Regions from separate parts of the Homo sapiens genome. Here region 2 is linked to region 1. A link means that fine-mapping ties the variant in region 1 to the expression of a gene that starts in the linked region. Tissue or cell type: whole blood. Region 1 holds a variant in brackets; the other region holds the start of a gene. All regions are shown on one strand. Distances are between the middles of the regions.

Region 1 (5,669 bases):
ATTTTTCCCTCCACACATCCTCTCCCAGTTGACCTGGCTAACTTCTACTCAGCTTAAATGCCTCTTCCTCCAGGAAGCCTTCTCCGATCCTTACACTCAGCCTTCAGAACCTTTACTCTATGTTTCCAGAGCTTTCTGTCTGCTTTTCCTGTCATAGCATTGATCTAACTGCATTGTAACTGCCTATCTATCCGTCTGTCTTCCTAACTAAATTATTAGCACTGGGGAGAAGGGACGTCTTCCCTCTTTTTGTAAAAATTTAATTTTATTATTATTAGTTTTAGAAAGGGGGTCTCACTCCATTGCCCAGGCTGGAGTGCAGTAGTATGATTATAGCTCACTGCAGCCTCCCAATTACTGGGCTCAAGTGATCCTCCCACCTTAGCCTCCTTGGTAGCTGGGGCTACAGCCATGAGCCATCACACCCAGCTAATTTTTAAATATTTTTTTGGAGATGGAGTGTCTCTATGCTGCCCAGGCTGATCTCAAACTCTTGGCCTCATGTGATCCTCCCACCTTACTCTCCCACGTAGCTGGAATTACCTCTTCTCTTTTGTTCCCCTCTGCATGTCGGGTCTAGCTCATAGCAGGCTCTTTCCATCAGCTCATCCTTATACCTAGAATACTCCTCACCCTCACCTTTGAAAGTCTGGCTACTTATCCTTCAGATTGCTGTTTGAAGTCTGCTCTGCTCATGGATGTTGTCCTGACCATGCTATCTGAGCTAGCCCCCCAGTCACTCTATCACATCACCCTACTTTCATTCTCTGTGTTGCATTTGCCACTCTTGGATCTTTTCCATGTTTGTGTGTTTCTTTTTTGTTTATTGGCTGTTTTCACCAGAAGGAATATACATGCCATAGAAACAGGGCCTTTGTCTGGTTTTGCCCCACATTGTAACACAGCATCTAGGCAAATGCTTGGAATGTGGTAGGATGAGTGTTGGATGAATACATGTTGGATAAGTTGAATGAATGAACTGATAGTGAATGATCAGTCAATCAAACAATCAAAGGTAACCCTCAGAGGAGAGCAGCAATCCTCAAGTGGAAATGGTAAACCAAGTGAGGAGCCTGTGCTGCCCCAGCTGGGATCTAAGATAAGTCATCAGATGTTCCCTAGGGGTGGCCTACATTCTCCCAGCATGCATCACCTCTGGCACTAATTAAAGGAGGACACTAGGGAAGGTTCTTTTTCTACGTTTCCAGATGGGGCAGACTCTTGATATAGGAAGAAAAAACAAATTGCCCCCTATGGCAGGCTGAAGGGAGAGGCTGGCAGACGGCAGCTTTTTAGAAATTTGGGTCGGTGCTGGAGACTTGTTAGTCAGTGACAGGTAAGACCTGGGACACAGATAACACATGGACACATGGACACTCATGAAAAACAGTAGACCATTGGCTAATGATAGAACCCAGGGCAAGGCTGAGCTATCTGGAGGTCTAATGGTCCTTTTGAACAATCTCAGCTTTTCTGGAAGGCAGTGAAGAGGAATGTGGGCTAAGAGTCCCTGCATTGCATCTCTGTCCGGCCTTGAGCTGTCTTCAAACAACCCCCCAACCTCCCCAACTGAGAACAAAGAGCCATCATTTCCACCTCCAGAAGCTTTGCCCACCAGAACGTGTCCAACTTACTAAACAGGGCTCCTTACCCCTGTGAATACTAAGAAGTAAACCGAAACAGAGCCCTTGCCAAGACAACTTCTCCCTCTCTCAGCATCAAAACTGAGGTCCTGTGCCTTCCAGTAAACAGTTCTGAAGTTACCCGCTTTCCTTTTTTAAAATTGCAAGCCGAAAAGCTCTCTAGCAAAGAGTCCCTCCCCCACCCCTCTCTTTCGTGGCGAGCCATGCCAGTTTGGCCATCTCCCAAGGACCAGTGATGCCAGGCATTTTATGAACAAAGCACAAGTTCCTTTGGATGCTGGCTGATTGATGGAAGTCCTGTGGGATTCGACCCTTGGAGGATTCACAGACAAATTACTTGATTATTAAGTACTACCAGAATAGAAATTAAGCTCAAAATAAAAAAACAAACGCCTCAAAGTCCCACTTGCTTGCTATTTACATATTGTTGTAGACAATTAAGCAGACTATGTGTCCTCTGGTCCAAGACACTAGTCTATGTGTGATGTTGCACAAACAATAGAAGACATCATTCCTGTCCTTGGAAAGGTCCAGTGGGACCAAGTCACCATGTGTGCAAAAGGCATATATGTTCATGAAGAAATGTGTAGTACACACATATATGGTGTGACCAGCTCCTCTCTCTGCACCATGAGTGGTCTAAGGGTCTCAGCTTTCTTTTGGGCACCAAGACACAAAGACTGGGCCCCATAATATCAGGACTGGGTCCCACTCCTCTCCCCAGGCGAGAAAGCAGCTCAAGCTTAAATTCTGGTCTCTGAAGGAAAAAAAAAAAACTCAGAACAAAAGAGCCTCTCAACCCAAGCTACCTCTGATTGATCCAGAACTGGGTAGTGAGGTGGGGTGGTGCAAATCCAGGAGAACTGGGGAGGGATTTGCTCTTGTGGCTCCAGCCCTACTCTTCCTTGCTTCTGAGTAATGCACTTGATTATTCTCACTCATGCAAGCACATCGAGTTTAGTGGGAAGTATATACACAAACAGATCTGAGCAAGTCCCCGCTGAGTCCTGCATCTCAGACTCTGGCAGCACAGAAATCAGTGAAGCAACTGTGAGCTCATAAAAATTTAAGACGCTTCGTGTGGGAGACAGTGGCTCTGGATGCAAAGGCGGGGAGGAAAAGAAGTAAGAAATGACCAAAAAAGCTAAAAAGCTGAAAAGCAACTTGTTATCTTTTTGCTTCAGGAGTGACCACACCAATACCC[T/C]CATTGTGGAATGGGCTTAAGGAAAATGAGAAAGCAAAAATGTGGAGCAATAAGTAGGCATTTCACGGTTTTCTAAAACCACCAAACTCCACACCGCCTCCACCCCGCAGTCCAGAGCACACTGTGGTCCATGATATGAGCAGGGCCAGTGAATGCTGACATGCCCATCCATAGTATACCACATTCCAGCTCCTAGGGGACTCTTTCCTATCCAAACTTGGCTGTGATAAACGGAACTGAGCAGAGGGCTTCCTCAACCCTCAGCTCATGCCATTATTAGCCAAATGGGTACAATGCACCATGCCATAGCAAAATCCACTAACAGCAGCTGGGAAGAGATGGGGAAATACAAGACAGATGGTAAAGTCCTTTGAAGTATGGATACAGTCCCTAAATAGAGAGGAGAGAGCCACACACTGAACATTTCATTTTGTAAGACATAGAATGGCCCAAATGCTGAAAACATGCACTACAATTCCAAAAGTTGTTTCCAAAGTCTAACTTTGACTCTCAAGTCCTTGGGTGAAGATACCTTGCCTCTGAAGACATCGTATGTTGAGCACTTTTTAAGGAACTAACCTCAGAACATGCAACCAATTCCTTGGAATATCCTTAGTGCTGAATTTGCTGTTGTTTGAAAAAATAAGCCAACATTGATCCATGGCAACTAGGCAGATGTTCCAACAAGGCTGCACTACTTTGGGTCCAAAAAGAAGGTGAAGTGGATTTTCTCAGGTGTCACATAGCTTGGCTCTGAAGAGTACTCCCTGCAATGTCTGGCACACTGGCAGCCACATTGGAATAAGTGTGCAATTTCATTTTTCTTTTCTTTTTTTTTCTTTTTATTTTTTTTAGACAAGAGTCTTGCTCTATCACCCAGGCTGGAGTGCAATAGCGTGATCTCGGCTCACTGCAACCTCCGCCTCCCAGATTCAAGTGATTCCCCTGCCTCAGCCTCCCAAGTAGCTGGGATTACAGGTGTGTGCCACTACTCCCAGCTAATTTTTGTATTTTTAGTAGAGACGGGGTTTCACCATGTTGGCCAGGATGGTCTCGAACTCCTGATCTCAGGTGATCCGCCTGCCTCAGCCTCCAGAAGTGCTGGGATTACAGGTATGAGCCACCGTGCCTAGCCTAAGTGTGTGCAATTTCTTTAGGGAACTTCTTAGAAAGGCAACACATTTAATAAATGTGCAAGTTCTGATGACATTTAATACATACGAAAGCCCCAATATGCTTGCTGAAAATCAACCTTTACCTTTTTTGTTGTATCAGGTGTTTGGGGAAGAGGGGAAAGGAATGGGCGGGTACTCAGTCATGGGATGAGAGCACGCTAAATCCATGTGCCCTCTTCCTAGGGTGTAGGAGGAGAGAGCTTCAGCGCAGGGTTCAGCAAACTTTTTCTGCAAGGGCCAGATAGTAAAAATTTTCAGCTTTGCCTGCCATATGGGGTCTGTTACATAACTTAACTCTGCTATTGCAGTGCAAAAGCAGCCTTAGACAATACTCAAACAAATGAGCATGGCTGAATGCCAATAAAACTTTATTTGCAAAATCAGCTGGGAATGGATTTGCTCTGTGGGCCAGATTTGGTCTGCAGTTCCTAGTCTGCCAACCCCTGCTCTTGTGCAAAGCAGACACTCATTTGCAGACTTCTTGTTTGACATCTCCAAACAACTTGCTGAAAGGTAAAGGGGCAAGCAGAGGTCCCTGAGCTCCCATAATCACTTCTCTTCAACCATTCTCGGTTGAATCCCATGATGTCATTCTGAAATGCAGTGGGTCATTGACAGGGTCACATTACTCAGAGAAAAACAGGATGTTTGACACCTAAAATATTCAGAACAAGCCCAGAGCTCATCTCTGCAAAAATGCTCTTATATAACAGGAAGCAAGAAGAAAGGGAAAGCGGCGACAGGAGGCTGGGAGGGGACAGCCGCTCTTGGAGAAGGCGCACCGGGTTGGGCTCTGACGGCAGGCCTGCTGCCTAGAGAGTACATCTCTGCTTGCAGCTGTCACTTCAGTGGACAGATGACTTCATTTCAGCTCCCCCCCTCCAATAAAGAGGCAATAATCTCTCACTTGGGAGAAATACCATATGGCAGATGCTTTGCAAAGTTGTAAGAAAACAGTATAAAGTACTTAGCGGGGAAATGCCACTTCCAAAAGCATAAAATTTGTCTAGAAAGGGATCAGGCAGTGTCTTTGAAATACCATAGGTTCCCAGAAGATGAAGTTGAAACCAGTGGGATTGGGTAACAAGAGGGGCATTATCAAGGCAAGTTAACACAGACATCTCCTTTCTTGTGTTTACATACCTTTAGTGTGGCTCAAATCCGAAACACTTATTCCCAAAGCTCACCCTGAACTGCCCTTGCTGAAATCTCAATGTCCACTACTCTCTACCTTGTACTTCAGGCTCGAAAATAACAGGTCTTCTTATTCCCCAAAGACCCAGTGGCATGAAGCCTCTGGCATGTGGCTTTGTGTCTCTGGGCATTTGGTCATGCAGGTTTCTTGTTCTGGAAGGGCCCTTCTGGCTCTTCAAAATTTAGCCTCCCTTGGCTGTTTACTGGGCCTCCCAAGTGTGTTCAGCACCCCCTCTTCTGTGCTACCTTGAGATCTTATACATATTTCTTTTGTTGTACCTAGTACATCGTCGAGTCATTTATTTGATTATATGACTTATTTCCTCCACTAGACCCTGAGCTCCTTGCTCTCTGATTTGTCTCTGGATTCCCAAAACCTAGGTAGTGCTGGGCTTATGAGAACAGCCCCATAAACATTTGCAGAATTTGGTGTCCAATAGTGGGGGGAGCCTC
Region 2 (5,669 bases), 130 kb before region 1:
TCTTAATTAAAAGTTTTGGCTTTCAATTTAATCATGTACACATACAAGTAATATAACATTACAACATTTGTTTTTTTCTTTTTTCTTTTTTACTATAAACCTCTCATTACAGTCGATTTGTATTTAATAAATCTTGCTTGTGTTTTTACATGTATTTTCTCATGTATTTCTTCCTATTGTTCATCTTCTCCCTCATGCCTGAGTTGCTCAAACTATGAATATTTAAGGAGAATGTGAATATCATGAGTAGGTAGCATTTTTCTATGTGTTTTCCATGAAGGGTGTAATGTACAGTGTAAACAATGAACAACAACCCAAATGGAAAAAAATCAGGTTATTTCAGATCTGTTCTTCACTAAATCCAACCTACCAGTACATTAGTGACTCCACATATAAACACTGGCTTCTAAAGAAAGGGTATAATGCTTTCCTCAGAACATTCAACAGATGGAGCAAAGCCTTAGCCAATGAATAGGACACTTGTGTAATAGACATGCTAATGCACCTGGAGGTGTCGTCAGACATTTGGGAATAAATACCTAAGTAGCTGCAATGAGACGGAGCTCATGAGTCACGGCTGAAAAGTAGTCTTTCATACAATTTCATACAAAAATCAGAAAGTGTTTTTTCCCTTCAAAATAGAACGTGTACAGAATGATTCAATGTAATTAGCAACTTCACTGGTATGCTGCATTTAGAAAAAAAACAAATCTTTTTTGGGTCACTGATGTATAACTAATGCCATTTTAGATTATATCGGGTGTCAGGAGGGTTCGATATAGATTATTAAAAGAAAAATTATGTGCCACTGAACTTCCTGCAGTCCAGATTCAATTCTAGTACCATTTTGTCTGTATATGAAGATTTTTCATAATGTTGCACAGATTACGTGCAACACAGCCCCTCTTTCATATGGGAAAAAAAGCATTTCTGACCCGGCAGCAAAAGAGCATGTGTTTTTAGTTTCTCCAGCTGTGGTGAAGTAGTAGGTAGTCATTTGGTGGTCATCAAAAGCACAAAATGTTCAGTTTCACTCTCACTCAAATCTTCTGTATTTTAAGAAGCCAATCCAGTTGGATTACTTTCCTCTCATCCTACCCTCTCATTTTCCATCCCTGCCCTGAGAAAAGACTGGCGGGCTTGTGCGGCCCACTGAGCAGCAGCTGGTGAAGGGAATCGATGGCTGTGTAATATGGCAAGTGACCTGATCCCCCTCCACACCCCAAACCTGGTTTTCGACTTGAAAGGCCAAAGGCTAAAGAAATTGAATCTACATAATTTTGCAGACAGAAAGTCTTCAATGTCAAGAGTATACATTGTTTTTGTCCTTGAAATGTCCTCTCAGTATATGGATAGTCACTAAAAATGGATTTGGATCCAATTATCCTAGCTTCTATTTTGCCCATACTGAGCCCGTTTCAGGGCAACACTGATTTTCTATGAGGACTTCTCTGTCTCATGGACTGATTCTTCTCTGCTTTCATGAATCTATTAACCTAATGCAATACAAAATGCAATTTCCTGAATTCAAAAATCATCTAAAAGGTATAAATAATTGGTCCCATTTAGCCACAGTTATTAGAGCCTCCAGACTTACATACACAAGAACGACATAAGAATTTGGTGCAATTTAAAACCCAAGGTTGGGTATGCTATAAACTTTCTGTCACTATTTAAACTTTTAAACTTTCTGTCACTATTCTGTCACTTAATTAGTAAACAAAATGAGAGTTATTCTACCAGGTAACATGCATTTAAGGTTCATCAGGACAACTAGCACAGCTGACTAGTTTGCCTACACCCAGAGAATGTGTATCTTGGCTGATAACCACAATCTCAAGCATTTGGTACCATGTTTGTGAAACAGCTCCTGAGGGTTGGAAAAAAAAAAAAACCAGACAACTTTTGAACACTTGGGAACAGGGAAGACATTACATATTAATTCATTAAGGTAGGGCATTCCATTGCAGCATATTTAAAACCCCAAAAAGAGAAATTTCCTAAAGTATTTCCATTGTTTAAATATTGACAGGCAATGAGTTTTAAAAAATGATTTTTCAAAAAAAAAAAAAAACATAGATAATGACATCCCTTAATCTGAAAGCTGGGAGACAGGATGAAGTGCCTTCTTTATATCTAACCGTCTGACTTTACCAGCCCCAAGAAAGGGAACCGTTACTTAGGCAGAGGGCCACAGGGCCACAGCCACCCTCCTGGCTTCAAATAACTGGGCTTTTGGCCCCTCAGCCCCTAGTTCATAGATTTCTTGTCGATGGCCAAAGGGCTTCCTTAATTGTAAGGTTACAAAACCAGAAGAAAATGCTCATGTCCCAAGGAGTCCAAAATGTGCCCCTTTTTCTGCTAAAAACAATTAATAACATACTTAGCATATCAAAAGGAACATAGCTGTTACTTCGGGAAGATTTAAAACATTGTCAGCAAAAGGGAAGATGTGCTAGGTCATTATGGACTTTCTTAGTTACAAATGTTCCTCCTTTCAGCTCCACATTCGATTTACCTTCTCCAAACACCTTGGATGTAAAGCACTGTCAAGATGAAGAATTGTATCTTATAAAAAAGAAAGCCAAAAATTCCTAACCAGAAAAACCTTTCCTCCCACAATCTCTTATAGTTTCATGAGATGTCCTGAAAAAGGTAAAAATATAGTGGTAACATGTTTATATACTTCTTTTTAAAATAAATCACTCAAACTGTTCATTGTACTTGAACAATATTTTGTCTTTGAAATAGCATGAAAGGCAAAGGCAAAACAGAGACAAGCTATAATTTATTTACTATTCAGACAAGACTAAAATCATTTCATCAAAAACCATCTTTTAGCCCAATGACGGATTCACTGCCCTAACAAAACTGTGCTCAATATAAGATAAAGAGCATGAAGTTTTACCTGAGTGTCTATGGGAAGCCATGGCTCAGAGACCAAGTTCAGGAGCAGCACCTAGACCAGTCTTCCCTCAACCCCAGCTGATAAGGCTGTGGCTCATTTGTGAACATACATTTAAGGGGAAGCGGCTAACACAAAAATAACCGAGAGCAGATGTCCCACCCCTCCCCAGAGATCACAACCTTAATCCCACTAGAAAATTCTTAACCATTTTAGGTGATCCAAGGGAGAAGAATAGGACCCAGTAAAAATACCAAACGCTACATATAAATACCTGCGGGGCTACTCAGCATCCAAATTAGCTCCAGAGCCAGAGAGGCCACATAGAAAGTCATCCCTGTACCGGAATAAAATTTGGACTCGGCTCTGGCATAGCTTAACGCTGAGCCAACCTTATTAATCCACTTTATATGCCTCAAGAGCTTGCATTTGGCCCTGTAAATAATACATTTTTGTGCTGTTAATGATAAAAGTAACTCTAAGAGATAGACTTATGTTACCAGTGTAACTCAAGGAGATTAGACAGTATGAATATAGAGATTAAGGGGATTATAGATGTTGTCACTCTATGTCCTCCTTAGTATGTTCCAGAGATCAGCAGATTACTGTACAGGAAAGGAGAGTGATCGTAATCTCCCCACCTCCTTAACGGCAGACAGCACAGAACAAGATGGGGAGACTATGCCTATCCCCATCACACACACAATGAAGACATTTTGTCTCACAAACTCAACCTCTTGTTTTTCAGCATCAGGGACAATAAAAGGAAAAACATGAATGAAAATGAAGACATCAACCTAAAATGTTGTAATAGCTCAACAGGCCATCAGATGTCTGGGGGCTGGCTATTAGGAGCATGTTCTAGGAAAAGAAAGCCCCCAAGTCCCTCCAGGACCTTCTTCCACATTCCTTCTCTGGCCTTACCCTTAGCCCCCTTTCCCTCACTCCCACCTCACTGGCCTCCTCACTGTCCCCTGTGCCCAGAGTCATGGTTGTTCCTTTCCCTACTTCAAGTCTGCTGGTATTGCACTGATTTCTCTCCTTGCTGTCTGATCTCCTGCTTTGCTCCATGAAGGCAGGGATTTAGTACTGGAGCTCACTGCAGTGGCCCCAGAGCCTAGAACACTGCCCAGCTCCCAGGAGGCTCTCAATAACTATTCCTTGAAAGAATGAACTAAATAACTGAAAAATCCATCAAGCCTCCAAAACATAGTCCCACCTGCAATCCTGAAAGTGGTTTTGGCCACTCAACTTCAAGGAAGGCAGCTGACCTTCTCGCTGGTACAGACACCTTTATAGCCACTGTCTTGTTTAAGTGGTTTTGGCCCTATTCACACATCTCCCCTACCAGGTTGAGGGCCAGGGCAGTGCTTTGCTTGTCTTCATGTTCCTATAGCACACAGTAGGTGAGCAGTAAATGCTCCATGAATAAATGAATGAATGAGTTCCCCAATTCTTACGATCTTCAAATGTTTAAGGAAAAGTTATTCTAAAAGACAACTGACATCAGTAACTCCCAGTTAGCTAGAAAATGACACAATAAAAGCCAGGTTGTTACGAGTAAATTTATTACATGTTAGAGGAAAAAAATAAGCCTGGGAAAAGAAGAGAAGCTACACTGTGCTCTGGCTCCACGCCTTTCTAGTCTCTTTCTCATCCAGCCTGATTAAATTATGGTGCGGAGATTAGCCAGTTGTAACAACACCACACCCCTAAAATAAACTGAAACTTTTCACCTAGAGGAAATTCTCTTACTTTATTAGATGATTAACCTTAATGAACCCTGAATTTTTTATTTTAGCAAGTTATATTTTTAGGAAGAGCCCATGTATGTTGAAATGCCTCTCTTGCAGCGCTGTGAACAATAGGCTTGGTGTGCCAAATACTTTCCTTTAGGAAGTCAATTCCTGTTTCAAGCTATGCATCAGGAAGTGTCTTCTTTTAGGCAAGTATGGTAGTTCTTTAGGTTTCTGATCATTTTGAAAAGTGACAACAGAATATGGATAGACAGCTTTATGAAAGTATCAAAAAACAAATCTGTTTTGCCTAAAATACAAGAGAAAATTCAAAGACAAGAGAATCACTTTTTGACCACCATGAATTAGTCAACTATGACCAGCCAGGATGGACTGGGAGCTTGGGCCTGCAACAATAGCATTTATTCCAGTTACTTCCATTTGCATCAACCAGGTAACTGTGCCCTCCTAAAAACTTCATGAAGCATGACCACTACCTGCTCTGACATCTGGCCCTACTGCAGATGTCCTCAAGCCACAGAATTAGACCTTCCACAAAACCAAGACAGAAACAGCCCCTTGCATGATGAGAAACAATTTCTTAGGAAGAATAGTTGGTAACTTTGTCCTGTCTTGGATCAGTGGCTCAGAACCCTTGCTGGCTATTTCACAGGTACCTGGAGTCACGGGTTTCATTGGCATATTAGTCAATCTTGTTATATATTAACAGTATGATGTTTAATAATATCTTTAAGAATCACTGTACTGTTTACAACGCACCTTTATATACTATTGGTGGAGTTGGCTGGTGTTTGGGAGCAACTCTCTTTGGTGTATGATGGTTACATTTCAGGCCTTCTAGTCTCACACTCTAGCAGTATCCGGACGCTTTTTTCAGTGAGTGCTAGGTATCAAACTCCCTGTTTCCCTTCCATGTGACCCTCTGCGAATCATTTACTTCAGGGTTTATCTACACATCCTTATGGTCCTACTATCTGCAGATACATTATGACCTATTATTGGGTTAA

What was found. PIP is the estimated chance that this variant, and not a neighbour inherited with it, causes the effect.
Region 2: it holds the start of FHL1, and the variant in region 1 is fine-mapped to the expression of FHL1 in whole blood (TOPMed, PIP 0.98).

What each region holds. Positions count from the first base shown.
Region 1 is chrX:136,064,303-136,069,971 of GRCh38, reverse strand. No RefSeq gene overlaps it. Among named protein-coding and RNA genes, the nearest start is that of SLC9A6, 82 kb to the right of the region's middle. The variant T/C (reference allele first, on the strand shown) is at 2,848.
Region 2 is chrX:136,194,374-136,200,042 of GRCh38, reverse strand. FHL1 (four and a half LIM domains 1) reads right to left here and starts at 2,996. Exons shown (of 6, transcript NM_001159699.2): 1 at 2,909-2,996. The coding sequence starts at 2,930.